Homo sapiens: one gene and its partners. The protein of the gene in region 1 interacts with the protein of each later gene in a biochemical or structural test. Each region holds a gene or a part of one and is shown in the gene's direction. Other genes may lie near its edges. The genes, in order: CHEK2, ATM, CDC25A and CDC25C.

The links.
Region 2: of the proteins of CHEK2 (region 1) and ATM, one has a biochemical effect on the other in vitro, tested with the Homo sapiens proteins (6 studies listed by BioGRID, with this or other methods).
Region 3: of the proteins of CHEK2 (region 1) and CDC25A, one has a biochemical effect on the other in vitro, tested with the Homo sapiens proteins (5 studies listed by BioGRID, with this or other methods).
Region 4: of the proteins of CHEK2 (region 1) and CDC25C, one has a biochemical effect on the other in vitro, tested with the Homo sapiens proteins (14 studies listed by BioGRID).

The regions. Positions count from the first base shown.
Region 1 is NC_000022.11:28,738,821-28,746,447, reverse strand, and holds the start of CHEK2 (serine/threonine-protein kinase Chk2), read left to right. Parts: upstream 1-4,627; 5' UTR 4,628-4,679; intron 4,680-7,621; exon of another isoform or gene 7,622-7,627. Other genes in the region: iron-sulfur cluster co-chaperone protein HscB isoform 1 precursor, read right to left, coding at 440-584, 1,744-1,833, 2,470-2,566, 4,117-4,352. UniProt on the Homo sapiens protein: Serine/threonine-protein kinase which is required for checkpoint-mediated cell cycle arrest, activation of DNA repair and apoptosis in response to the presence of DNA double-strand breaks.
Region 2 is NC_000011.10:108,218,725-108,226,078, forward strand, and holds the start of ATM (serine-protein kinase ATM), read left to right. Parts: upstream 1-4,342; 5' UTR 4,343-4,462; exon of another isoform or gene 4,463-5,412; intron 5,413-6,059; exon of another isoform or gene 6,060-6,850; intron 6,851-7,354. Other genes in the region: protein NPAT, read right to left, coding at 3,776-3,812.
Region 3 is NC_000003.12:48,171,417-48,178,447, reverse strand, and holds part of CDC25A (M-phase inducer phosphatase 1), read left to right. Parts: intron 1-459; coding exon 460-594; intron 595-1,005; coding exon 1,006-1,077; intron 1,078-3,990; coding exon 3,991-4,164; intron 4,165-7,031. UniProt on the Homo sapiens protein: Tyrosine protein phosphatase which functions as a dosage-dependent inducer of mitotic progression. Directly dephosphorylates CDK1 and stimulates its kinase activity. Also dephosphorylates CDK2 in complex with cyclin-E, in vitro.
Region 4 is NC_000005.10:138,321,787-138,328,817, reverse strand, and holds part of CDC25C (M-phase inducer phosphatase 3), read left to right. Parts: intron 1-288; coding exon 289-334; intron 335-2,763; coding exon 2,764-2,797; intron 2,798-2,913; coding exon 2,914-3,003; intron 3,004-7,031. UniProt on the Homo sapiens protein: Functions as a dosage-dependent inducer in mitotic control. Tyrosine protein phosphatase required for progression of the cell cycle. When phosphorylated, highly effective in activating G2 cells into prophase.

The DNA.
Region 1 (7,627 bases):
TCAGCTCCCACAATTATGTGAGCTAATTCCTTAAAATAAATAACCTTTTTTTTTTTTTTTTTTTTTTGAGATGGAGTCTCGCTCTGTCGCCCAGGCTGGAGTGCAGTGGCCTGATCTCCGCTTACTGCAATCTCTGCCTCTCGGGTTCACGCCATTCTCCTGCCTCAGCCTCCCGAGTAGCTGGGACTACAGGCACCCGCCACCACGCCCGGCTAATTTTTGTATTTTCAGTAGAGACAGGGTTTTACCATGTTGGCCAGGCTGATCTTGAACTCCTGACCTCAGGTGATCCACTTGCCTTGGCCTCCCAAAGTGCTGGGATTATAGGCGTGAGCCACTGCACCCGGGCCATTATATACTCTACGTTCATTTTTCACTAATCCTTGGACAAGTGTTCATAACAGCAATGAAATACATTCAGTGCTATTTTATCTTTCACCTTTGACAATGGATTCAATCTCTTTCATGGCAGCTTCACTTTCAGCTTCTGCGAGTTTTTCATTGATTTCCATTATTTCTATGAGGAATTGCCTGTCCATTTCATAATCTGTCCTTTCAGGAATCTCTATTCCATGGAGCTTTAGCTATTGGGGTAGAAAGCAAGAAAAATAAGTTGAAGAAGCTATGGGCAGAGTAATGTAAATCCTACTCATCCATTAGGAAATAATACCACTAATAGAGAAAACTGCAACTGTCCCGATAATGAAAGACTAAGGGGTATCAAAAGCTTGGACTGAAACAGAAATGCTGGAATGGGATTTCCACTCATGCTACCCAAAACTATGTGACCTTGGTGTGATCTTGGGGTAGTCATTCCTCCACTCAGAGGTTGAACTAGATGTTTGTAAAGATTCTATTCAATTATAAAATTTTCTAGATTGTAAGATACTTTTTTTTTTTTGAGATGAAGTCTCACTCTGTCGCCCAGGCTGGAGTGCAGTGGTGTGATCTCAGCTCACTGCAACCTCTGCCTCCTGGGGAAGCAATTCTCTGCCTCAGCCTCCCGAGTAGCTGGGATTACAGGCACCCGCCACCATGCCCGGCTAATTTTTTTGTATTTTTGGTAGAGGCGGGGTTTCACCATCTTGACCAGGCTGGTCTTGAACTCCTGACCTCGTGATCCACCCGCCTCGGCCTCCCAAAGTGCTGGGATTACAGGCGTGAGCCACCATGCCTGGCCTCTTAAGATACTCTGGAGAGGAAAAAAAAACAAAACAGAAAATGACTCTTAACTAAAAGCTACCATCATCAAATCCTTGAAATTCACAGAAAAAAGCTAGAAAATCACAATTTAAAAAATGCAGTTGAGGCAAGTAATATTCACAGAGAAAATTATACTTGTGCTCTGAGGCTAAATACTATTGGGTCCCTGGACTTTTTTTTTTTTTTTTTGAGAGGGTGCAGTAGTACAATCACAGCTCACTGCAGCCTTGACCTCTCAGGCTCAAGTGATCCTCCTGCTTCAGCTTCCAGAGTAGCTGGGACTACAGGTGTATGCCAACATGCCCAGCTAATTTTTGTATTTTTTGTAGAAATGGGGTGTCATCATGTTGCCCAGGATGGTCTTGAACTCCTGGGCTGAAGTGATCTGACCACCTCAGCCTCTGAAAGTTCTGGGATTACAGGTGTGAGCCACCATGCCTGACCTCAAGCACTCTTCTGCTGAATAAAGGGGACGTGGCTGTCCTACGCCATAATGGGCATCAGGACGTCATACACAGAAGTGTTGGGAAATCACCTTACAAGGTACAGTCCTCTGCTCAGGGGGGCCAGGAGGGTCTTATAGGCATCATTCACCAGGGTCGAATGCTTCTCTGAGAAGTCCTTTTCAGTCTGTTAGTGGAGATGAAGATAGTACTATTACCATCCAAATCACAAAGTTTTTTTGTTTTTGTTTTTGTTTTGACGTTGAGTCATCCAGGCTGGAGTGTGCAGTGGCGCGAACTCAGCTCACTGCAACCTCCACCTCCCACGTTCAAGTGATCCTCCTGCCTTAGCCTCCCAAGAAGCTGGGACTACAAGCATGTGTCACTGCACTGGGCTAATTTTTATATTTTTAGTAGAGACAGGGTTTCACCCTGTTGGCCAGGCTGGTCTTGAACTCCTGACTTCAAGTGATCTGCCTGCCTCGGCCTCCCAAAGTGTTGGGATTACAGGCGTGAGTCACTGTGCCAGGCCCACAAAGTTTTATAATATTCTAATGGGCAGGCACCTAAGGAAGTGGTTAAGTAGAGCTGGTGTGGGATGAGGTGTCTTTATATTCAGCTGATAGGTTTTAAGTTATCTGGGAAGTCAGACAAAAGCTGTGAGTGAATGGCAGCTCTGGGTCTGACAGGCTGGGGTCAGACTGCCATGGGGCAGACACAGCTGATTTTCCAGCTCAGTCCCTGATAATCACATAACCACAAGGCTACTGCCACCCAGTGTGCACACATATTTGGGGATTATTGGGGTTGGCCAATAAGCTACCTGAGACCTCTGGCTGAAGAAATCTGGGTGGACAAGACGCTGCAGTTGCTGGTACCTGTGCTGGAGCTTCGCTGTATCAACTCTGAAGGAACGGTTGCTGGAAGGAAATTGGGAGATTAAATTTATACAACAAATATTTAAAGGTTTATCTACCATGAGCCTGGTTCTTGCTCTTATGGGGAAGATGCAATAACATATAAGCAGTTAATTTCAAAAAGTGGTAAGTCCTATGAAGGGACACAGAACAGAGTCAGAGAGTGTAGCAGATGTAGTGGACAAAGAGATGACACTCAGCTGAAACCTGAATGATGATGAGTAATCAAAGATCAGAGGAAAGAGACGTCCAGGTAGAATTGCAAGAGCAAGGACCTCGAGGTGGGAGCAAGATGGGGATGCCTGAGGAACTTAAAGATCAGCGTTACTGTAGCCCCTCATACATGTTCAGTGACTGGTGGGGAAGATCCCATAGTTAAGGAAAAGGGACATTCCTAAATTACACAGACAAAGATTCTTTGCCTGGCCAAACTTTAGTCAGATTTCTGAACCTTCTCCTAGGCCCAGATGTATGCTTTCTTGTAAAATACAGTTTTGGCAAATAATCTTGCCAAGTCAGTTTAGCTAGAATCCTCGATCCTCATATTTTTGATCATCCTAGATCTCTGATCAGATTCTTCATCCTCTACTATCCCCCAGGTGGTGTCTAAGCAGCCTGGCCTGTCTTCAGCAAGAATCCCGTTAGGTCGGCTTAGCCAGAATCCCGTTTACTCTGCTCCTTGGCTACAAATTTCCTTCTGCCCATGCCCTTTTTGGAGTTGAGACCAATCTCTCTCCCCAACTGCAAGACCCTATTGCAGTGGCCCCTCTACAAGATGGTCTTGAAGAAAGTCTTTCTGGTGCTTGAACAAGTGTGACTGAATCATGTTTTCTTTAATACCACCCTAACTTTTCCACGGCCCAGGTCCCTTCATCCCTGTCTCTCCCGGTTTATTTTAATTCAGCCCCTTTCACATTCTACTCCCAGAGTCTGTCCTATTTCCTTACCAGTTCAGCTCTATCCACACTGCCCCGTCTCTCCAAGAACCTCAGTCTCAGGGGGAAAAACCATTTATTGGACCCTCTCCCTCCAATTCTCACTTTTCCCTCAGGCCTCGCCCACAATATTAAGCTTTTCATGCTTTACTCCCTAATCTCGGATCACACTTCTGCAGTCCTTTCTTAAATACATCAACCCAACTTTAAACCTTACTCACCCTATTCATTCAAGTCTTCCAGTCTCCCAGGCCCTGCCCCTCAAGTACCCTTTCCTCAAGTTCCGCCCCTCGACTTCTCCTTCCCTTTCCCGTAGGTACCGCCCCTCAAATCTCCCTCCCCTCTAGCCTCGGCCCCCCTATTTCCTCTAACTTCAGCGCCCGCCCCTCCAGTCCCGTTCGTCTCCCTTCTCCACACCTCAACGTTGCTTCCCTCAGTCCCCGCCTCTCAATTTCCTCCTGAGAAATCAAGACACTTCTCTCACGCCTGCTCTCTAGACCTCCGCCCCCCCATCAGTCCCGCCTTCTCTTCCGCCAGCCAGATCCGTCCTCCCCTCTCGCAGGCCAGACCTCGACGTGTCTCTCGCCCGGGCCCGTTTCCCGAAACCGTCGCTCGTACCAGTCCATAAGGCTGAAGTAGTCTCGAGTGGGGTCAGGTGCCTGCAGCGCTCGGCACTGTGGGCAGAAGAACCTGTCCTCCCGCCCGGGGCCCCATGGGCCGCCGCAGTTCCAACAGCGGGGATAATTGCTTCCCGCCTGCGACGCAGCATCGCAGCTTAGCGGTCTCCTTCTGGGAACCCCTGTCGGCCAAAACCCCCACACCCGGAGCAAAGCCCCGGCTCTCCCCCGCCACATCTGGCCGGCGGCCTATCTAGCCGTGGTCACTCGTGGGGAAAAGCAAAGAGAGCGTCTAACCAGACTAATGTTGCTGATTGGCTGGGGAGTCGAGGGGGCGGGATCACCCGAGGGGAACCCGGGTTCTAAGTTCCGCTCTCCCTTCTAAACTACAACTCCCAGGAGGCATTGAGGCGGCGCCTGACGGCCACATCTGCTGCTCCTCATTGGTCCGGCGGCAGGGGAGGGGGTTTTGATTGGCTGAGGGTGGAGTTTGTATCTGCAGGTTTAGCGCCACTCTGCTGGCTGAGGCTGCGGAGAGTGTGCGGCTCCAGGTGGGCTCACGCGGTGAGTCATATGGGGAACTTCTGTTGGGTGTTTGGTGGTTCGAATCCCATCTTAAGCGTTTTGTGCGAACGGAGTCTCCTGAGCTTCGCTTTGTCTGTAGTTTTGAGCTGAAGGGGGAGTGTGTGGGCGACTCTCTTCCTTTTCAGTAGATCATCCTCGAGGTGAAGTTCACTTCCCGTATTACTTGCAAGCTGAAACAGGCCTGAACATACAGGATAAGAAGAACAGCGTTGTATTCTTCAATATCAGAGCGAAGTGACTTCGTAAAAATTCTATAGATGTTAGAAATCGTTGCCATTCTTTAGGTTCAATCTATAAAATACTTATAGAGAAGCCAGTCTTAGCTACTGGGCGCTGCAGGGACTGGAAACGCACTGAGCTGTGTAGGAGGATGTTCTGCGTGTCCCTAAATAAGTCCCTAAGTAAATGTATGGGATAGGGTGGCCAGAAGTGGGTAGGAGGGCATCAGTCCTCCTTCGGACTTAGGTTTTCTGCTTGAAAAAAATATTGTGTTTCACTTGAAAGACCTCTGGAATTTTTAAAAAAAATTATTTATTTTTGATATAAAGTATACATATATGATTACCATCTGTACCTTTTTTTTTTTTTTTTTTTTTTTTGAGACGGAGTCTCTCTCTGTTGCCAGGCTGGAGTGCAGTGGCGCGATCTGGGCTCACTGCAACTTCTGCCTCCTGGGTTCAAGCGATTCTCCTGCCTCAGCCTCCTAAGTATCTGGGATTATAGGTACCCGCCACCATGCCCGGCTAGTATTTTTAGTAGAGACGAGGTTTCACCATGTTGGCCAGGCTGATCCCGAACTCCTGACCTCAGGTGATCCACCTGCCTTGGCCTCCCAAAGTGCTGGGATTACAGGTGTGAGCCACCGCGCCCGGCCTATTTTCAATTTTTTGAGGAATCACAATACTCTTCTCTATAGTGGCTATACTAATTTGCATTCCCACCAGTGGTGTATGTGAACAGTGCAAGGTCAGACATAACCAGGTCCATGCACATTTGTGTCTTTCCACAAGATCAGACTTATTGATGTTTTATTTTAATTGTAAAAGCCACGAGCTATATGGAGTTCCCAAGGAAGCAATTTTCCGTAGTACTCCCTGTTTACTTGGTGGTCAGAGCCATGGGCACACAGGCTCAAGCCATTCCACAAGTCAGTCAGTATTGTAAACCGTACACAATAGTATATTTATTTAATATGTAAATGTTATAGATTAAAAATCTTACATTAAAGTAACATTTAACATTCGGAGAAAAGGGGATAGGGAAAGTGGTTATCAAACCAGTCCAAGGAGAGCAATGTGGACAAAGAGAGTGTTTTGGCTTTATCTGGGGTGTCAGTGTCTTGTAAGGAAGAGTTTTTGATGCGGGCAGAGCCTTTGATGGCGGATACTGGGTGTTAATCATGAGTGACAGCAAGATGGTGTCTGTTAGGACAGCCATTTTGACCTAATAAAGTCCTGCTCTTATGACCAAAGAATTTTCTTGTGAGGACTAATAACAAAAGCGTGTACATATTTATATCCTTATCTGGTTTAGTACAGTGTTTTTTTTGAGACAGAGTCTCGCTTTGTCACCAGGCTGGAGTGCAGTGGTGCGATCTCGGCTCACTGCAACCTCCGACTCCCTGGTTCAAGCGATTCGCCTGCCTCAGCCTCCCGAGTAGCTGGGACTACAGGCACGCGCCACCATGCCCAGCTAAGTTTCGTATTTTTAGTAGAGTTGGGGTTTCACCATGTCGACCAGGATGGTCTCCATCTCCTGACCTTGTGATCCGCCCGCCTTGGCCTCCCAAAGTGCTGAGATTACAGGCGTGAGCCACTGTACATGGCCAGTACAGTCTTTATTAATTAGACAAACATCTGGTCCCTGTTGGCATAATGCCTTTTAAAATATAAGATAGAGCCTTTTTCTAAGATAAAATTACTTATGTCAAGAGCACTCTATACAGTTCCCCTTTCTGCACATTCTTTCCAGCATCTGTTTTGCCTATCTTTTATACAAACCATTTTAACTTGGGTGAGATGGTATCTCATTGTGGGTTTTTTTGTTTGTTTGTTTGTTTGAGACAGAGTCTTACTCTGTCGCCCAGGCTGGAATGCAGTGGCGCGATTTTGGCTCACTGCCTCCTCTGCCTCCCGGGTTCAAGAGATTCTCCTGCCTCAGCCTCCCAAGTAGCTGGGATTATAGACGCCTGCCACCATGCCCAGCTAATTTTCATATTTTTAGTGGAGACAGGTTTCACCATGTTGGCCAGGCTGGTCTCAAACTCCTGACCCCAAGTGATCTGCCCGCCTCCGCCTCCCAAAGTGCTGGGATTACAGGCATGAGCCACTGCACCCGGGCCTCACTGTAGTTTTGATTTATATTTCTCCAGTGATCAGTGATGTTGAGCATTTTTTTAATATACCTGTTGGCCATTTGTATGTCTTCTTTCGAGAAATGTCTTTTCGGATCTTTTGCCCATTTCTTTTTTTTGAGACAGAATCTCACTCTGTCACCTAGCCTCGAGTGCAGTGGTGCGATCTCGGCTCACTGCAACCTCCGTCTCCGTCTCCTGAGTTCAAGTGATTCTCGTGTCTCAGCCTACCAAGTAGCTGGGATTACAGGCACGGGCCACCATGCCCAGCTAATTTTTTGTATTTTTAGTAGAGATGTGGTTTTGCCATGTTGACCAGGCTGGTCTTGAACTCCTGACCTCAGATGATTCACCCACCTTGGCCTCCCAAAGTGCTGGGATTACAGATGTGAGGCACCGTGCCTGGCTTGCCCATTTCTTAAATTGGATTATTTGTCTTTCTGCAGTTGAGTTTCATCTCCTTATATATTCTGGTTATTCATCCCTTGTCAGATGGCTAGTTTGGAAATGTTTTTTCCCATTCTGTGGGTTGTCTCTTCACTTTGTTGATTGTTTCCTTGGCTGTGCAGAAGCT
Region 2 (7,354 bases), on another chromosome or scaffold:
CTGAAGGATGGTTGGGAATCCCAAAGAAGCTGACAGAAAGTATATATGCAATCATATTTGGGGAACATGTCCAGTTTGGATGCAGCACAAGGTTTATGAAGGGTAACAGTTGGAGATACAACAGAAAAGACAAAATGGGTAAGGATCATGAAAAGTTTTAGACAGCAATGAGTACATATATTATTAAATAAACAAAGGAGTGTCATAATCAGAGCCATACTTTTGCAAATGTTTTATTAAATATCTATGTTTTGGTGATATAAAGGTGAATAGAACCAGCAGCTCTTGACCTGTTAGGGGTGTGTCAGTTTTGGTCCTGTTTGACCTCAAACACGTTCTTGACCCTTCTGTCGCTCTCTACTGTATGACATAAAGCTTGACTCTATATAGGCAATGTTCCCCAAGCTCTTCTGTCGGCCTGCTACTGGCTGGGCTCAGTAAATAGGAAGCACTGGTGGGAGGCTGGAGGGCAGGAGGAAGCAGCCATATTTTTCCCCCATTCCCTTTCTGCCTCAGTAGAGTCTCCTCTAAGACTACCACTCCCTCATCAGACAAGTCTTCCACGTTCCGCAGTCAAACCAGCCTCTTGATTGCTTCCTCTCTCCTTATCCTTCTCATTAGCATAGTGGCTTCCTACTGTTGCTAACCACTGAGATGCCTTAGTTGTAAGCTGCTGGGCGTCTTAGCTTTTCTCTCACCAGTGTAAACGAATTCTCTCATTAAATCTTTCCATGTTAAATACTCAGAATGGTTTCTACTTTTTTTACTGCATGCTGTCTCATACAGAAGGTAACAAATCTATTCAAGAAAACCTTCACAGATGATAGTTTTGGGGACTCCCAGAACTCTTGAAGCTTGTCCATTCATCCATGACTAAGACTACTAATAAAACAAAAAACCAAGTAAGTTTCAAATTGGGAAGATGAAAAAGTTCCAGAAACTGATGGTAGTGATGGTTGCAGAAAAATGTCAATATAGTTAACACTACTGATCTGTACATTAAAAACAAACAACAACAACAACAACAACAACAACAAACTCATTGTTTTGGGCTTTAAGAACTATACATTTTTAAGTGTTGAATTTTGTTAGTATATTTTATCAAAAAAAAGTAAACACACATCTACAATGAGACATGATAAGGTTGTAACAGAAGTACAATGCTATGGCAACATTTAAGAAGTACTGACTGTACTTGCTGAATGAAGTTTCAGAGATCAGGCATGACCTGAACCTTGAATAGAAGTGTACTAGGAAGACAAAGAGAAGTAGAATACATACAAGAATTTTCAAAGAAACTTCAATTCGTTTGGCATGTCTGCAGCATAAAACAGATGTTAGGAAGTTGAGATCAAGTTGGAGAGGTAGGTAGGATCAGTTCCACAGAGCACCTTGAATAAATAGATAAAAACTGAACTGATGGCCCAGAGGCAACAAACACTTTGATGTATTCTGGCCCACACAACATTTTGTAAAATCCCAGCAAGGCAATAAGGGCTACTTAAGTGGAGTAGTGAGATGCAAAAGTCAGAGTGCAGTATCCTGAAGGATAAAAGGTAGGTGAAGAACAGCAACTAAGTGGAATTCATTGTTCTTTGAATAAATTTGACTTGTGAAAGGGTGACACAGAACATAAGACAGAATGTTCTGTTTAATGGGTGTCTAATGTCTAGTGGGGTCCAGAAAAGTGTTTTTTTGTGTGTATGTTTAAGAATTTAAAAAAAACCTAATTATCTGAACACTAAGGGGAGAAAACTTAACTTCTCTATGTTCAGCAATTGGCACAGTGTTTGGAACATACTAGGCACCCAAAGATTTGCTAGAAAAAAAACATTATGAAGGGACCAATAACAAGAGGAGCTGAAGATGGCGAGGGGGTACTGATAGGAAAAGAATCATGAGTAAATAATAAACCTCATATGAGAAAGATATACACGATATGTATCTATTTAAGATGTAAAATGATAAACGACAAAAGTAAGAGCATTAGGCATGGGGAGGCTTTTTTGTATTGTATACTCCTGCCCATCTGAAATTTTTAGTAAGAATAGAATTATCTCAACTTTCAGACTAAAAGGTATAGTGTGAAAGCTTCAGGGAGATTTGTAACAACAGTAAATAAAATGAATTGCGAGGACAACTGTCTGGGAAGCCATGACAGAAGTCCAAAAGAGAAGTAATGGCAGGCACATTGCGGGATTGGTGGCAGTGAAAATGGAATGTGAATGACAAAGATTTTTAAGATAAGAAAACCATGGCTGGCGTTTTTTGTCCATTAAATGAAAAGCAGGAAGTCAGCAGAGTAGCTGGTTTGTGGAGAAAGAATACTCACACATCGATGTGAATTATTTCAATTAGAAAATGATACTGCTTTCTTAGGGCTTTCTTAACTAGGGGTGATTCTGCCCTCCAGGGGACATACTAGCAATATCTAGAGACATTTTCACTGATCACAACTGGGTAAGGGTAGGGTGGGGAACGGGTGTCCTACTGTAATCTAGTGAATAGAAGCCAGGAATGCTGCTAAACATCCTACAATGTTTGAGCACAGGATAGCTCCCCACAATAAAGAATTATGAGGCCCAAAATGTTAACAGTACTGAGGCTGAGAAACCATGTTTAAGACTATAGTTACCGAAACTCAACTAGATTACCAAACTGCCAAAACTCAGAATTCTTAAGCAAAAGATTAATCAGACATTAACAAAACATTAAACTTGTCATTAAGTTTCTTCAAAAATGGATGGTGGAACCATTTCCGTTTAACGTTTCCTGCAAAATGTGCTTATCAAGAGCCCTGCGCAAATAACATTTTTGTGGACAGCGCTGGGCATTTAAAAGAGGCACAAGACAAATGGGTTTTCCGAACAATAAAATAATAGTAGTAATGGCTGTGAATACTATGGGAGGTTTCATCACAGATGCTTGCCATTTACTTTTAGGGACGTCGCATACGACGTCCGTAAATTACTGGCTCGGGTTTTGAGCTTTACCTGGCTCTCGTCCCCTGTAGTACAATCCTCTTTATTCTTTCAGGGGACAAACAACAACAAAACCCGTCTCTCACACAGACAATACACCCTGACAGACAAGTGACCCACAAACAATCCCTCCTCAAATGAAGGTAAAACTAGGGCTAGAAAACGTTCAACTAATTTAAGGCAATTAACCCTCTGAAATTTTTCGCTGATCAAAGGAACAGGAATTGCTGTTTTAAAATATGCAACTGGCATTTCACACCTCTACACTGGACGACGTATTGCGTGGAGGATGGAGAAGGAAGATCACCCCTACTCCCAAATTCGTAGTTATAAGGGCGGGTTATTAGAAGGGCGCCAGGAAGGTCTCTCTACAAAGATGGGGGGCCGGGGAACTCCCTATTTGCCCTATTTTGGTCCCAACACTGAACCAAGGAAATTGCGCCCAAGGTTGAAGCACACGCAATCCGTCCGTCATGCAGACAAATGCTCTTTCAGGGGTCCTAATTAAGTGTGGAGGCCTGACTTTCCTTCCGAATCCGCCCCAGGTGTTCCACCCCGAGCTTCCCCTCGGGCTTCCCCTCGCCACGCAGCCTCTGAAGAGAGGAGCATCTACATACAAAGAGGCTTAAACTGCCCAGAACCTCCGAATGACGAAGAATCACCGCCAGTCTCAACTCGTAAGCTGGGAGGCAAAACCCCAAAGCTTCCCTACCAAGGGAAAACCTTTGGCCTCAAAGGTCCTTCTGTCCAGCATAGCCGGGTCCAATAACCCTCCATCCCGCGTCCGCGCTTACCCAATACAAGCCGGGCTACGTCCGAGGGTAACAACATGATCAAAACCACAGCAGGAACCACAATAAGGAACAAGACTCAGGTTAAAGCAAACACAGCGACAGCTCCTGCGCCGCATCTCCTGGTTCCAGTGGCGGCACTGAACTCGCGGCAATTTGTCCCGCCTCTTTCGCTTCACGGCAGCCAATCGCTTCCGCCAGAGAAAGAAAGGCGCCGAAATGAAACCCGCCTCCGTTCGCCTTCGGAACTGTCGTCACTTCCGTCCTCAGACTTGGAGGGGCGGGGATGAGGAGGGCGGGGAGGACGACGAGGGCGAAGAGGGTGGGTGAGAGCCCCGGAGCCCGAGCCGAAGGGCGAGCCGCAAACGCTAAGTCGCTGGCCATTGGTGGACATGGCGCAGGCGCGTTTGCTCCGACGGGCCGAATGTTTTGGGGCAGTGTTTTGAGCGCGGAGACCGCGTGATACTGGATGCGCATGGGCATACCGTGCTCTGCGGCTGCTTGGCGTTGCTTCTTCCTCCAGAAGTGGGCGCTGGGCAGTCACGCAGGGTTTGAACCGGAAGCGGGAGTAGGTAGCTGCGTGGCTAACGGAGAAAAGAAGCCGTGGCCGCGGGAGGAGGCGAGAGGAGTCGGGATCTGCGCTGCAGCCACCGCCGCGGTTGATACTACTTTGACCTTCCGAGTGCAGTGGTAGGGGCGCGGAGGCAACGCAGCGGCTTCTGCGCTGGGAAATTCAGTCGTGTGCGACCCAGTCTGTCCTCTCCCCAGACCGCCAATCTCATGCACCCCTCCAGAGTGGCCCTTGACTCCTCCCTCTCCTCACTCCATCTTTCCTGGCCTCTCTCCGGGTGCTTAGCGGACTTGGCCAATAACCTCCTCCTTTTAAACGCCCTGAATTGAACCCTGCCTCCTGCGCATCCTCTTTTTGTGTCACCTTAGGGTTCAGATTTAACTACGCGACTTGACTAGTCATCTTTTGATCTCTCTCTCGTATTTAGTACTTTTAGTCAGCGAGCATTTATTGATATTTCAACTTCAGCCTCGCGGTTAAGAGCTTGGGCTCTGGAATCATACGGCTGGAATTGGAATTCTGTCAGTCGTGTGGCCGCTCTCTACTGTCTTGTGAAGATAAGTGAGATAATCTTGACCTGTGGTGAGCACTCGTGAGCGTTAGCTGCTGTATTTACCAGGTACAGATAAGACAACTACAGTGGATGATAATGTATGTGGTGATAGGGGAGTACTCTGATGGTAGAGGAGTGACTTTGGTTCTCTGCAAACTCAGCCTGAGACTATCAATTCAGTTTGTGGTGAGACCTCGCAGTGTTACCTTGGCAGATGGTAGAAGCCTTCCAGATGGAAGGAAAAATGCGTGTAAAGGCACAAAGTGTAGAAGGACCCTGAAGCTCCAGCGTGAGGCCTGGCATTGAATGAAATATATTTTGTGGGTTTTCAGCTGCTGAAGTCATAGGAATGGATGAGACCAAGAAAACAAAGCTGTTTTTGAGGTATGAGCGGAAGAAGAGATATCAGGAGACTTTCGAAACAGTCATAACGGAAGTTAATATGATCATTGCTAACATTTGCTGTGTTTCAGGCACTGTAAGCATGTATATGGGTCCTTAAAGGGACTCATAGAGGTAGGTACTAGTATTGTTTTTCCTTTTATCATTGAGAAACTGAGGTTTGAAGAGATTAGTGAACTTGCTCTAGATTATACAGTTTGTAAGTGGCTGAACCAGGATTTGAACTAATACAATCTGACTACAGAGGCCACACTCCTTAGCACTAGAAAAGAATGGCATGCCAAGGGCAGAGTTATTTCTAGGAAGATGGGATATAAGCGTCATTGTCAAGTTGTGCAAAGGGGTCAACTTGGTTGAGATCTAAAAAGGAACACTGAATTCGTCAATTCAGAGGCTCGTAGGAAGTAGGAAATCCTTATCTTTTCGTTTGAACCTTGAGTGGAACCTAGATATTCTGGATTAATGTATAAATGAAGTTCATCTTTATATGGTGACACTCATACTCTAGTTGACTACCTAATAGTTCCTCTGCCTTCTTTCAGTTCCGCCAACATACTGTGTTCTTTAACATTGTAGAACCCTTTGGCTATGCTAGTCTCCTTCCCTGAAGTGTTGGTCCTCTAGCCCTTTTTTTGATTGGCACCAGTTAGTTCAGATCTTGGCTTTATTATAAACTCCTCTGAGATATATGTTCCCTGACAGTTTATCTAAAATGATTCTCTCTACAGTTATTTTCTATTACTGTGTTTTTGTTTCCTCAGAGGCATACATCACAATTTGGAATTATGCATTGGTTTATCAATTTACTTGTTTATTGTCACCCTGCTGCCCAGATATGACTTCATGAGGGTAGGATTTGTATCTGTTTAGTTCATTATTTGTCTAGCTATAAGTAGTAAATATTGTTTGCATCTATCAGTGAATGAGCATCTTCTGTTTATGTAGATAATACTGAACTGTTTTGTTTTCTTCAAAGTAATCATTAAGCTGAAGGTAAGAAAAACAAGTTCAAGGAAGTCACACCATGGGGAAAAAAAAGTCAAGTTTAGGGCTGCCTCTTCCGGGAAGTGTCAAATCTTTAGTATATTTAGGAATAAAGGTGCCAAACCTTATGGTTCTTTGGATATTGCTAAGGTATTTTCATTGGTTAGATTACCAGTTTCATTTTCCTTATTGACTCAAGAGGGCTTTAAACTGAGATTGAAGAAGTAAGAAGATTCCTAGATAAAACCATAAGGAATGGAAAAACAAAAATGATAATACTTGTCCACAGGAAGTATATAATCAAATGAAAAGAACTCAAATAACAATCTGTAATCTATAGCAGAGTAAAGCGGAAGTTGTAATAGTGTTGGGGGATGGGGGAAGTCAGAAGAACCACCAGTGAATATAAAAGGAGAAGAGAATCAGAGCCATCTGCTAATAAAATGGGTAGTCAGCTCTTTTTGTTTTTTTTGTCTTGTTTTGTTTTGAGACAGTCTCGCTCTGTCGCCCATGCTGGAGTGCAATTGCGTGATCTCAGCTAACTGCACTTTCCGCCTCCTGGGTTCAAGTGAGTCTCCTACCTCAGTCTCCCCAGTAGCTAGGATTGCAGGCACATGCTACCACACCTGGTTAATTTTTGTATTTTTAGTAGAGACGGGGTTTCACGATGTTGGCCAGGCTGGCTGGTCTCGAACTCCTGACCTCGTGGAACGCCCACCTCGGCCTCCCAGAGTGCTGGGATTACAGGCATGAGCCACCACGCCTAGCCCCGGTAGTCAGCTCTTACTGAGAATATTCAAAGACAGGGCATTCATTTTGTAAGAGACATTCCTTCCTTCATAGGAAGATTGGACCTGGTCTTTTAGTTCCTCCCAATTTTGAGATTCTGTGAGATTGAATCGGGGCAGAGAAACATACTTAATCTTGAAAGATTAAGTAGAATTTAGATGGATGGATAGGAGAAGGACTTTCCCTACCTTTTTACTTCTTGAGATATAGTTATTTGTAGGTATAATATACATAAATATATGTATTTTTTCTCTGTTTACAGACATTCATAGTTTAATAAAAA
Region 3 (7,031 bases), on another chromosome or scaffold:
GTTACCCTTTATTCCCCCCTGTCAGAACTGGAGTTATATATAAGTGCATTCTCTAGGCCATTTTATGGTCTTTATAGAGATTTGCATCTGCTTGCCCTAACTCATTTCAGCAGATTCTCATACTGTCACAGTCCTCAATGCTGATCGGTGTTCACTGATGCAACCTTCTAATAAAAGAAACCTTGTTCTTCACAAGAGGCTATCTCTAGTACCCATTATAAGGTGAATTGCTTCTGGCAAGAGTTCTCTGTAAAGGCTACTGACTACTCAGGGCTGTGTGTGGTCATCAAATCATTTATAATCTTGGGATACATTTTCATATAATCAGTAATGGCTAAAATTTTGCTTTGTATAACAAGTATAACATAGTATGTTTTCATCATAAAAACTAGTGACCCATTCAAGGAAATGAAAGTGGATCAGAGCTCTCATTATTAATCCATGAATTTTGTCTTACAGCTTTCCTCAAATGAAAGAGATAGCAGTGAACCAGGGAATTTCATTCCTCTTTTTACACCCCAGTCACCTGTGACAGCCACTTTGTCTGATGAGGATGATGGCTTCGTGGACCTTCTCGATGGAGAGAATCTGAAGGTACCGTGTGTGTGTGTGTGTGTTCCTATTTGTTCTACTAATTAATTACCTCTGGAGAAGGCATGTGATGTGAAAAAGAACAGCAACAGCAGTTCCCCGGGGCTTGCTTAGCTGATATTTTTGTTCATTTGGTGATAATTCATTTAATAATAGGGCTACCAGCCTTATTAAATCCTTTGGATTGGGGGATGGGGGCATCAAAAGAAGACACATGATCCTTCTTACCCTGAAGGAGCTAACTAACAATCTATATGCAAGAAACATGAAATCAGAACGGTATAGGATGGTACATTAAGGATACTTCCTATCCAGGCCTATCTGGTATTGTTCAGGGAGAAACACACCTAAAGCACTTAAACAAATGTTAGTCTCTACAGGCTCTTTTTAAAATCAGTTTTTCTGTTTCTTTAGAATGAGGAGGAGACCCCCTCGTGCATGGCAAGCCTCTGGACAGCTCCTCTCGTCATGAGAACTACAAACCTTGTGAGTTGTTCTAGTGTGTCTGGAGGAAGCCCTGCGTGATTGGGGCACTGGACAGAGTAGTCCTTAGTTGAGTATAGCCAAAGATTGAAATGCATGATAGGATTTGGGGATCTGGGTTTTAGGCCTCACTTTGGCTACCTACAAATTATGACCTTTAGTCATGATATCTCTCTGCATGTCTCCTGATGTATAAGGAGTGTGGGTTAGGAGGGACCATGGTCATTCCTAGCTTTTACCATCTAGTCAGTTTGAAAAAAGCCTATCTGAAGCCTTTAGCCTGAATACTTTACTTTTTTTAGGTTATTCTCATTTATATTCCACAGAACCTAGCATAAAATTAGACAAGCAACAGTAACTCACAGGATTTTTTTTGTTTCTGTGTTTTTTGTTTTTTTTTTTGAGACGGAGTCTCGCTCTTGTTGCCCATTCTAGAGTGCAGTGGCACAATCTTGGCTCACTGCAACCTCTGCCTCCCAGGTTCAAGTGATTCTCCTGCCTCAGCCTCCCGAGTAGCTGGGATTACAGGTGCCTGCCACCACACCCAGCTAATCTTTGTATTTTCAGTAGAGACGGGGTTACATTATGTTGGCCAGGCTAGTCTCGATCTCCTGACCTCAGGTGATCTGCCCACCTCGACCTCCCAAAGTGCTGGGATTACAGGCATGAGCCACTGTGCCTGGCTGGATGTTTTTTGTTGCTGTTTTGTTTGTTTGTTTTGTTTTGTTTTGTTTTTCATTGAAAATACCTACCTGAGGCTGGGTATTTTCAGGTAGATATTTTCGATTTTAAAAATTATATATAATATATATTTTATATATATATATATATATATATATATACTCACACACACACATACACAGTATAGATTTGTGTTTCCATCAGGGATACTTTCAAACAGAAAGCATAGTATATGTAGATACAGAATCTATAGTGTATGTGTGTATATATATTCAAAATCACATATATATACACACACATACACATGCTATAGATTCGTGTTTTCATCATAGGGATACTTTCAAAGTTAGAAGCAAGAATGTGCCTATACAGATATATACACCTGTATGTTCAGAGATATACACCCTTAGGTACACATCTAAATTGATAAGTTCATATTTTTTAATTCTCAATAACCTGAACTATAATTACAGAACAAATGAGCTACAGTTTTTTTGTTTGTTTGTTTTGTTTTGTTTTTGAGACAGAGTCTCCCTCTGTTGCCCAGGCTGGGGTGCAGTGCAGTGGTGTAGTCTTGACTTGCTGCAACCTCTGCCTCCTGGGTTCAAGTGCTTCTTCTGGCTCAGCCTTCTGAGTAGCTGGGACTACAGGCTTACGCCACCACTCCCGGCTAATTTTTTTGGTATTTTTAGTAGAGACGAGGTTTCACTATGTTGGCCAGGCTGGTCTCGAACTCTTGACCTCAGGTGATCCATCCACCTGCCTCCCAAAGTGCTGGGATTACAGGCATGAGCCACCGTGCCCAGCCAAGCTACAGTTTTGAGATCACTTATGGATTATAGTACATTCATGTGCATAGCTTTTGAGAAAATATGTTAACGCAGTACAAATGTTATGAGTAAATTTACCAGGTCATTTTGATAGGCATAAAATTACATAAAATGTGAGAACACTTTGGAAGTGGCTGTTAGTTTTATAGATTTGATTTTAGAGTCATAAGCATGGGCTTGTAAGCTCTTAATAGTGGGGAAATGTCTTCCACAAATGGTTATTACAAACTAACCATTGCTGGGAGCTGTAATGGAAAATAAACTTCACACAAAAGAGGAAGAAAATCCCCGGTCTCTATGGGAGCAGATGTGGGAGTGATCCATTCTACTGGGGACTATCAGGAAGATTTCAAAGAAGTGACATTGAAATGTTAGCATCAACTTGAAAATGAATGGTTTACTGAGATGTGAAAGGACATTCTGTGCAGAAGGAAAAGCCAGGCCAAGACACATGGAGTCGAGAATAGGCTGAGATGCGTTTAGAGAGCTGACTCTTGCTACCACTGGTCAGATTGGCTTCCCTTGGGCTCTGGAAAATTTGTCTTTATTTATTTATTTATTTATTGAGACAGAGTCTTGCTCTGTCACCCAGGCTGGAGTGCAGTGGTGCAAATCTTAGCTCACTGCAACCACCACCTCCTGGTTTCAAGTGATTCTCGTGCCTCAGCCTCCTGGGTAGCTGGGATTAAAGGCACGCACCACCACACCTGGCTAATTTTTTTGTATTTTTAATAGAGATGGGGTTTCTTCATGTTGGCCAGGCTGTTATTGAACTTGTGACCTCAAGTGATCCCACAGTGTTGGGATTACAGGCGTGAGCCACCGCGCCCAGCCTGGGAAATTAGTCTTTAAAAGACCAAGTAGAAAAAAAGACTTTGAACACAATTTTGAAAGGCATTTGCTACTCTGCCCATCCCCACTCCCTCCAAATTTACCATCTTAACTATACCTTAACCAAAGATGCCCCCATTTTTATTATAACCTGGCTACTGTGCATCTTTTCTGGATTTAAGTGGGGTATTTAAACCCGTTGACCTGCTTAATTAAGCAAGGTGCAAGTAATAAAATGGAGGGGAAGATAGGCAAGCCAAAAATGTGTTCCTGACTGGAAGGTCACACTTCTCTTGACGCAGGATTATGTAGACAGTTTTTGTGAGGGCAAAGGACGTTTTGCTCATCTCTATATAATGTCAGCTGAGTATATATTCATTGAGCACTAAGTGCTCAGTGCCTACTATGTGCCAGGCCCTGTGAGAGTTGCTAGGACTAGATGAATCGGCAGTGTCTGTTGGCTAATTTAGAATTGATCTTAGATCATCCCAGGAAACCTTCGGTTTATTTGTCTTACCATTCAAGTGAACAGGTTTTAATGAAAGATGGGTCTGTCTGTTTTTTTTCCTGTAAGGACAACCGATGCAAGCTGTTTGACTCCCCTTCCCTGTGTAGCTCCAGCACTCGGTCAGTGTTGAAGAGACCAGAACGATCTCAAGAGGAGTCTCCACCTGGAAGTACAAAGAGGAGGAAGAGCATGTCTGGGGCCAGCCCCAAAGAGTCAACTAATCCAGAGAAGGCCCATGAGGTTAGTTTCCTAGGTTCCTTTTTGCTCTAGCACAGATACTGTATTTTTCAGTTCTAAAAATTTCTACTTAGTGGTTCATTTATTTTCTTTGCTAAGATTTGCTGGGGTTTTGTGGGGTTGTGTGTGTGTGTGGGTGTGTGTGTGTTTCTTTTAATAGAGATGGGATCTAGCGATGTTGCCCACGCTGGTCCTGAACTCCTAGCCTCAAGTGATCCTCCTGCCTTGGCCTCCCAAAGCACTGGGATTACAAGTGTGAGCCACCACACCTGGCTGATACTTGGCTGTTTTCATGTTGGTTTTTCATTTGCTTTGAGTATGTTCATAATTGCCTGTTGAAGCATTTTTAAGATGGCTGCTTTAAAATCTTTGTAAGACAAATCCAACATCCATCCATAGTGTTGTTGGCATCTGTTGATTGTCTTTTCCTGTTCAAGTTGGGATTTTTCTGGTTCTTGGTATGACCGGTGATTCTTCCATTGTCTCCTGTATATTTGTGAGTCTCCGGTCTATGTAAATTTTACGTTTTAGCAGGCTTCCTCTGATACTGCAAGAAAGGCATGGGTGGAAGTCCGGGTTCCCCAGCACAAACTCCATTGACACCTTGGGTGGGGACTTGTCTCATTATTGCTGGGAGGGAGTGGAAGTTCATTCCATCCCCGTGGGGTGGTGACTGGGGCACTGTATGACAGCTGGGCAAAGGTGGAGGCCCCCGCTTGCTGTTGGCCATAATTGTTTCTGTGTTGACTAGTAGAATGATTATTGTCTAAAAGTCTTCTGCCTCAATAGGCCATCCTTTGCCTAGGGAGAGCAGGCTTTTCTTGGGGCTTGTTGTGTTGCTGTCTCCAGCTTCATGAGTTGAATGGTTAACTCATTCGTTTTTAATTTTCTTATTTCTGGATAAATCTATTTGAATCTATGAATTTCCCACTGCTTTAGATTTGTCTCATAACTTTTGACCTGAAATGTTTTTATTATCATTTGTTGTAGATATTTTATTTCCTTTTAATCCAGACCTATCATGGCCTATTAAATACTTGATTTTTATAAAGGTCTGTCTTTTTTTTTTTTTTTTTTGAGACGCTCTGTCGCCCAGGCTGGAGTGCAGTGGCGCGATCTCAGCTCACTGCAAGCTCTGCCTCCCGGGTTCATGCCATTCTCCTGCTTCAGCCTCCCAGTAGCTGGGACTACAGGACCCCGCCACCACGCCTGGCTAATTTTTTGTATTTTTAGTAGAGACGGGGTTTCACAGTGTTAGCTAGGATGGTCTCCATCTCCTGACCTTGTGATCCGCCCGCCTCAGCCTCCTAAAGTGCTGGAATTACAGGCGTGAGCCACTGCGCCCAGCCCTGTCTGTCTAATTCTTCAAGTTAATTCATTGCATTGCTCATAGTTGTATAGGCTGTTTTGTTGTTTCCTGTTTCTGAGACAGGGTCTCTCTGTCACCCAGGCTGGAGTGCAGTGGCATGATCTCCGCTCACTGCACTCTCCACCTCCCAGGCTCAAGCAGTCCTCCCACCTCAGGCTCTCAAGCAGCTGGGACTATAGGTGTGTGCCACCAAACCCAGCTAATTTTTGTATTTTTTGTAGAGACAGGCTTTCGCCATGTTGCGCAGGCTGGTCTCAAACTCCTGGGCTCAGGGCAATCCTCCCGCCTTGGCCTCCCAAAGTGCCAGGATCATAGGTGTTAGACACAGCACCTGGCATGGGTGAGCTAGTGTCATGGTTGTCTGGGCCTAAGTCCTATGGTCCTTTGTGTTATTTTTTCTATTTATTCTGTGGCTAGACACACAAAACACTGGTTTATTTGTATGTTTTTCCTTCATTATACTGTCCTTATATTGAGGTTTGGTATTAAGCATTATAAAATGGTGAACTACCTGTGTTTTCTGTGGCATGAAAAGGTTTAAGTAAATCTCATCACAGTCTTAAAAGGTTAGAGAGATGACAGCTAGGAAAACATTTAGCATTTAGGCCTACTGCCTTATCGTATCTGCTTTTGTTTTTAATGCTTTATGAATGTTTTTAAAGTATTGTTCTAAAAGAATATTTTAATAATTGCATAGTATTTTTGTTTTGGGAGAGTTGTTTGGTTTTGGTTTTTGTTCTTTTTGTTTGTGGGGGGCACAGGGTCTAGCGCTGTCACTCAGGCTGGAGTGCACTAGCACGATCACAGCTCAGTACAGCCTCCATGGGCTCAAGCACTCCTCCCGCCTCAGCCCCCCTAGCAGCTGGGACTACAGGCATGCACCACCATGCCCAGTTAATTTAAAAAAAATTTTTTTTTATTTTTTGTAGAAAAGAGGTCTTACTGTGTTGCCCAGGCTGGCCTTGAATTCCTGGGCTCAAGCAGTCCTCCCACCTCAGCCTCCAAAGTATCTGGGACTACAGGCACAGGCCAGTGCACCTGGCCGATAGTGTTTTGACTTACAAGTATACTAGAAATAATTGAATAAATCACCTTCTGGACATTTAGAATTTCCCTTCCCCTGATTTTCCTTTTATTTCTAATTAAAAATGAAATTCTGGGTTATAAGGGCAAGAACATTTGTGAAACTTTACATTGTATACATGTCAGAAAATATCTATCAATATTTAATAATATTCTGGCTGAGTGCTGTGGTTCACTCCTGTAATCCCAGCACTTTGGGAGGACAAGGCGGGTGGATCACGAGGTCAGGAGTTCCATACCAGCCTGGCCAATATGGTGAAACCCTGTCTCTACTGAAAATACAAAAAATAGCTGGGTGTGGTGGTATGAGCCTGTAATCCCAGCTGCTCAGGAGGCTGAGGCAGGAGAATCGCTTGAACCCGGGAAATGGAGGTTGCAGTGAGCAGAGATCACGCCACTGCACTCCAGCCTGGGTGAT
Region 4 (7,031 bases), on another chromosome or scaffold:
CTGAGTGATAACCTTTCTTTTCTACCCATAAGAAAAAAAAAAACTCCATAGGTAGCATAGTGTAGTGTTTCCCAACACTTGATTTCTTTTAGTGACACATATAAATTCTTACGTTTCTGTGAAATTGTACCTTGTACCATGAAATGGGTACCAATCGAGAGGCTTTGTATTCAAAAGCTCAGTCCTTGAAATTAATACGGCTTACTGGTAATGAAGAAAATCTGAAGGAAAAACAGGATGCATGGACAAGAATAACTCCTTTTACTGATTCTTTATATTTGATTGCAGGTCACCTGGATTCTTCAGGACTTCAGGAAGTGCATTTAGCTGGGATGTAAGTTCTGTTGTTAAATGAACCCCACACAAAAGCCTTTTAGCACTGGTCATAGAGATTTTATCCTGTGCAGACTCTGCAGAGTACAAAACCTTTCATACTGGGTATAAGTGGGCTTTGAGGCCTAGTTCCTTACCTTGAACAGTTTCTAAGTTTTCCACATCTAAATAGTGTTGTGAAAATGAAGGCTATTCATTTTAACCATCATAATCAGAAGTATCTATAAGGAAATGAAGGAAAATGGTATACTACACTTATGTATAGGCTTTTATTTGTATGTGAAAGGTGCTGTATCTTAGTAATTGAAAGTACAGAGTGGCCGGACACGGTGGCTTACATCTGTAATCCCAGCACTTTGGGAGGCCAAGGCAGGCGGATCAGTTGAGGTCAGCAGTTCAAGACCAGCCTGCCCAACATGGTGAAACCCCGTCTCTACTAAAAATACAAAAATTAGCTGGATGTGGTGGCACATGCCTGTAATCGCAGCTACTTCGGAGGTTGAGGTAGGAGAATTACTTGAGCCCAGGAGGCGGAGGTTGCAGTGAGCCAAGACTGCGCCACTGCCCTCCAGCCTGGGCGACAGAGCGAGACTCCGTCTCAGAAAAAAAAAAAAAAAGAAAGTACAGAGTATAAGCTCTGGAATCAGTGTGTGGATTCCTGGCTTACTACTTCATTCACCAGTTGTGACTCTGACAAGTTTTTTTTAACTTCATTGGACCTTAATTTTTTTTATTTGTAACGTGGAGACAATAATAGCATTTCTCATAAAGTAGCTATTGTAAGGAGTAAATAAACTGTGTATCTAGCACATACCAAGCATTTTACTTATGTATTTATTTTTATTTTTGAGATGGAGTCTGGCTCTGTTGCCAAGGATGGAGTGCAGTGGTGCCATCTTGACTTACTGCAACCTCTGCCTCCCTGGGTTCAAGCGATTCTCCTGCCTCAGCCTCCCGAGTAGCTGGGATTACAGGCGTCCACCACCACGCCCGGCTAATTTTTGTATTTTAGTAATACAAAAATGGAGGCTTCACCATGTTGGCCAGGCTGGTCTTGAACTCCTGACCTCAAGTGATCAGCGCCCCACCCCCACCCACCCCTTGGCCTCCCAAAGTCCTGGGATTACAGATGTGAGTCACTGGGCCCAGCTTGAATTGCTTTAAATGCTCTAACCCAGATAGATAATGAAATCCATGGAGGGAGGATAGAAATTAATTTTTTTTTTTTTTTGAGATGGAGTCTCGCTCTGTTGCCAGGATGGAGTGCAGTGGTGCGATTTTGGCTCACTACAACCTCCGCCTCCCGGGTTCAAGTGATTCTCCTGCCTCGGACTCCTGAGAGGCTGGGACTACAGGCACATGCCACGACGCCCAGCTAATTTTTGTATTTTTAGTAGAGACAGGGTTTCACCATGTTGGCCAGGACGGTCTCTATCTCTTGACCTCGTGATCCGCCCGCCTTGGCCTCCCAAAGTGCTGGAATTACAAGCGTGAGCCCCCGCGCCCAGCCTTTTTTTTTTTTTTTTTTTTTTGAGACGGAGTTTTGCTCTTGTTGCCTAGGCTTAAGTGCAATGGCGCGATCTCGGCTCACCACAACCTCTCCCTCCCGGGTTCAAGCGATTCTCCTGCCTCAGGCTCCCAAGTAGCTGGGATTACAGGCATGCGCCACCATGCCTGGCTAATTTTGTATTTTTAGTAGAGACGGGTTTCTCTGTGTTGGTCAGGCTGGTTGCGAACTCCCAACCTCAGGTGATCCGCCTGCCTCGAACTCCCAAAGTGCTGGGATTACAGGCGTGGGCCACAGCGCCCCGCCAGAAATTAAATTTTTTTAAAAAGTTAGCCCCGGCCGGGTGCGGTGGCTCACATCTGTAATCCCAGAAGTTTGGGAGGCTGAGGCGGGCGGATCACGAGGTCAGGAGATCAAGACCGTCCTGGCTAACACGGTGAAACCCCATCTCTACTAAAAATACAAAAAATTAGCTGAATGTGGTTGCAGGCGCCTGTAGTCCCAGCTACTCAGGAGGCTGAGGCAGGAGAATGGCGTGAAACCGGGAGGCAGAGCTTGCTGTGAGCCGAGGTCGTGCCACTCCAGCCTGAGTGACAGAGCCAGATTCCGTCTCAAAAAAAAAAAATTAGCCCCAATACACTGTGCTGGAAAATTAGTAAATTGTAAATTGTATAAAACTCGTTCATCTTTGGAACATGTTATATGGTTATGCAGGCAAAATGAGGGTCTTATCCCCAGGATGTCACTTGAGTCTTGATATTTACCACAGAGAATACCCTATGTATTGTTGTTGGAAGAGACATATCAACTAGGAATAGGGCTCCTAGAATGAAATAGAAAAATGTTGGGATGCACCAATCCACTGAAGAATAATCAAACAGTATTTGGGACTAACCTGACAGGCAGTTTGTTTTAATCTGCAGGAATCATGACCAGCACCTAATGAAATGTAGCCCAGTGAGTAGCCTCTCTTTTTTTGGGTTTTGTTTTGCTTTTCAGGTGGGAGGCAGAGGGTTTCCATTGCACCTGTGGCTTGAGGATGCTGGACGTTCTCAGCAAACTCTCTTTTTTAGGCACAGCTTCTTTGTAGCACTCCGAATGGTTTGGACCGTGGCCATAGAAAGAGAGATGCAATGTGTAGTTCATCTGCAAATAAAGAAAATGTGAGTGTTTAATGGAAACCTAGATATATTGGCAGTTTTATTTTTTGAGTGAAGAAACTTGGTATCATAATGAGACATAGAACTGTTTATACCTCGTATGCTAGACAAGGAAACTGTATTACTATAGGGGAGAAAATTTCTTTGTTTTTGTTTTTTCTTATTAAAGTTTGGCCCTAGGACAGACACCCAGCTCCAAATCTTCCACAGTAGGTCATCATTATTTCTCATGTTCAGTTGATCATTTTGAGGACAAAAATTACCCTTACTGTAGTGTAAGGGATTTAGGAGTTTTTTGTTTGTTTGTTTGTTTGTTTTAACAGGTAGGGATAACTTGCATAACTTGTTCATGGATTTTTTTTTACCACTTTACATGCAAGTGTAGATTAATTTCTTATTTCCCCCTTAGTCTAGCTTTTAAGCCCTTATTCCGAGGAGGCCATGGTACTTTTTATCTAAACCTTAGGCCATCCGTCGTTCCAAGTTAAATCTAGCCTCTCCGGAGCCACCTCATCACTAAGATAGTTCTGTATCTAATCCCTCATCTAAGCCCCTTTTCTAGACATCGTTTTTTCTTCCCTGCCTCCCATCCCTTTCCCCAAATCATTACCATAAAAGATAGCTGCTCTTCTTTTCTTACATTGACTTAAGATAAACTCATGTTTTCGGCTGTTCTTATCAGTTTTTTCTTGATTTAATACTGTCCTTCTAATCTCCATTTATAATCACTTTTTATTCATTTATTTTTGAAACTGAGTCTCGCTCCATCGCCCAGGCTGGAGTGCAGTGGTGCAATCTCAGCTCACTACAACCTCTGCCTCCCGGGTTCAAGTGATTCTTGTTCCTCAGCCTGCCAAATAGCTGAGACTGTAGGCACGTGCCACCACGGCCCAGCTAATTTTTGTGTTTTTAGTAGAGACGGGGTTTTGTCTTATTGGCCAAGCTGGTCTCAAACTCCTGACCTCAAGTGATCCACCTGCCTCGGCCTCTCAAAGGGCTGAGATTACAGGTGTGAGCCACTGCCTGGCCTATAATCACTTTTTTTTCTTTTTTTTTGGTGAGACAGAGTTTTGCTCTTGTTCCCCAGGGTGGAGTGCAGTGGTGCAATCTCGGCTCACTGCAACCTCTACCTCCTGGGTTCAAGCGATTTTCCTGCCTCAGCCTCCCACGTAGCTGGGATTACAGGTGCGTGCCACCACACCCAGCTAATTTTTGTATTTTTAGTAGAGACAGGGTTTCACCATGTTGACCAGGATGGTCTTGATCTCCTGACCTCGTAGTCTGCCCTCCTCTGCCCCCCAAAGTGCTGGGATTACAGCCGTGAGCCACCATGCCCGACAGCATCAATATTTTTAAAGTTTTTTTTTTTCCTCTCCCTAGAAATAAGGGTCTCACTATGTTGCCTAGGCAAATCTTGAACTCCTGGGCTCAAGCCTTAAGGTTTTGATACTTTCTCCGATTCATTTCTAAAAAAGTTACAAGAATTTACATTTTCATTAGCAATCCAAATCTCATAGAATTTACTTATTTATTTATTTATTTATTTTGAGACAGAGTCTCACTCTGTCACCCAGGCTGGAGTGCAGTGGCGCAGTCTCAGCTCACTGCAACCGCTGCCTCCCTGGTTCAAGCAATTCTCCTGTCTCAGCCTCCTGAGTAGCTGGAACTACAGGCGCATGCTGCCACGCCCAGCTAATTTTTTGTATTTTAGTAGAGATGGGGTTTCACCATCTTGCCCAGGCTGGTCTTGAACTTCTGAGCTCAGGCAATCCACTTGCCTCAGCCTCCCAAAATGCTAGGATTACAGGTGTGAGCCACCCTGCCCAGTCTTCTCATGGAATTTGTTTTTTTTTTTTTTTTGAGATGGAATCTTGCTCTGTTGTCCAGGCTGGAGTGCAGTGGGACAATCTCAGCTCACTGCAACCTCTGCCTCCCGGGTTCAAGAGATTCTCTTGCCTCAGCCTCCTGAGCAGCTGGGACTACAGGCGTGTGGCACCACGCCCAGCTAATTTTTGTATTTTTAGTAGAGACGGGGTTTCACCATATTGGCCAGGCTGATTTGAACTCCTGACCTTGTGATCCACCCACCTCGGCCTCCCAAAGTGCTGGGATTACAGGCATGAGCCACCATACCTGGACTTCTCATGGAATTTTTTAAAAAATTACTTTCTGCTGAGCAGTCTAGTTTGAGGGAAAATGCTAATTAGGCCAGATGTTGTGGCTCATCCCTGTAATCCCAGCACTCTGGGAGGCTGAGGTGAGAGGATTGCTTGAGTCCAGGACTTTGAGTTCCCTAGCTGGGGAACACAGCAAGACCACATCTCTACCCCACCCCCCAACCAAAAAAAAGAAATGGCTGGGACTTGGTGGTGCATGCCTGTAGTCTCAGGTACTCTGGAGGCCAAGGCAAGAGGATCGCCTCGGCCCAAGAGCCTGAGGCTCCAGTGAGTTATAATTGGGAGGATTGCTTGAGCACAGGAGTCTGGGGCTGCAGTCAGCTGAGATGGAGACTCAGTCTCAAATAAATAATACACACACACATACATACATGGTAAAATAGTTTATTTTATGTTAAAAATAATTAGCAGGCCAGGCATGGTGGCTCATGCCTGTAATCCCACCGCTTTGGGAGGCTGAGGCAGGTGGATCACCTGAGGCCAGGATTTGAGACCAGCTTGGCCAACATGGCAAAACCCTGTCTCTACTAAAAATACAAAAATTAGCCAGGCGTGGTGGCACCTGGCTGAGAAACAAGAATGGCTTGAACCTGGGAGGCAGAGGTTGCAATGAGCTGAGATTACACCACTGCACTCCAGTGCAGTGAATGGACAGGTGACAAAGTGAGACTGTCTCAAAAAAAAAAGGAAAAAAAAATAAAAATAAAAATAATTAGTAGTGGCTGGGTGCAGTGGCTCACACCTGTAATCCCAGCACTTTGGGAGGCTGAGGCAGGCTGATCACTTGAGGTCAGGAGTTCCAGACTAGCCTGGGCAACATGGTGAAACCCCATCTCTACTGAAAAAAAAATATGAAAATTAGCCAGGGCCGGGCGCGGTGGCTCACGCCTGTAATTCCAGCACTTTGGGAGGCCGAGGTGGGCGGATCACGAGGTCAGGAGATCGAGACCATTCTGGCTAACATGGTGAAACCCCGTCTCTACTAAAAATAGAAAAAATTAGCCGGGCATGGTGGCGGGTGCCTGTAGTCCCAGCTACTCTGGAGGCTGAGGCAGGAGAATGGCGTGAACCCGGGAGGCGGAGCTTGCAGTGAGCCGAGATCGTGCCACTGTACTCCAGTCTGGGCGACAGAGCGAGACTCCATCTCAAAAAAAAAAAAAAAAAAAAAAAAAAATTAGCCGGGCGTGGTGGCAGGCATCTGTAATCCCAGCTACCCAAGACGCTGAGGCAGGAGAATCAGTTGAACCCAGGAGGCAGAGGTTTCAGTAAGCCGAGACTGCACCACTGCACTCCAGCCTGGGCGACAGAGCGAGACTCTGTCTCAAATAATAATAATTATAGGCCGGGTGCTGTGGCTCACGCCTGTAATCCCATCACTTTGGGAGGCCGAGGCAGGCGGATCACAAGGTCAGGAGATCGAGACCATCCTGGCTAACATGGTGAAACCCTGTCTCTACTAAAAGTACAAAAAATTAGCCAGTCGTGGTGGCGGGCGCCTGTAGTCCCAGCTACTCCGGAGGCTGAAGTAGGAGAATGGCGTGAACCCGGGAGGCGGAGCTTGCAGTGAGCCAAGATCGCGCCACTGCACTCCAGCCTGGGCGACAAAGCATGTCTCTGTATCAAAAAATAAAATAAAATAATAATAATAATTAGTAGTGATTTCATGTGATTATTATCCATGCGTAATTTCTCTAGTGTCTTTTGTGCCCTTATAATACTGGGGTCTTAACTTACCCAGGCATTGACTTGCCTTTCATAGACCATGGACTCCAGAGATTTGGATTATTATTTCTAATCTCAACCCTGAGGGAAAGCTATTTTAACATATTCTATCCTATGAAGATAAAGTTGATC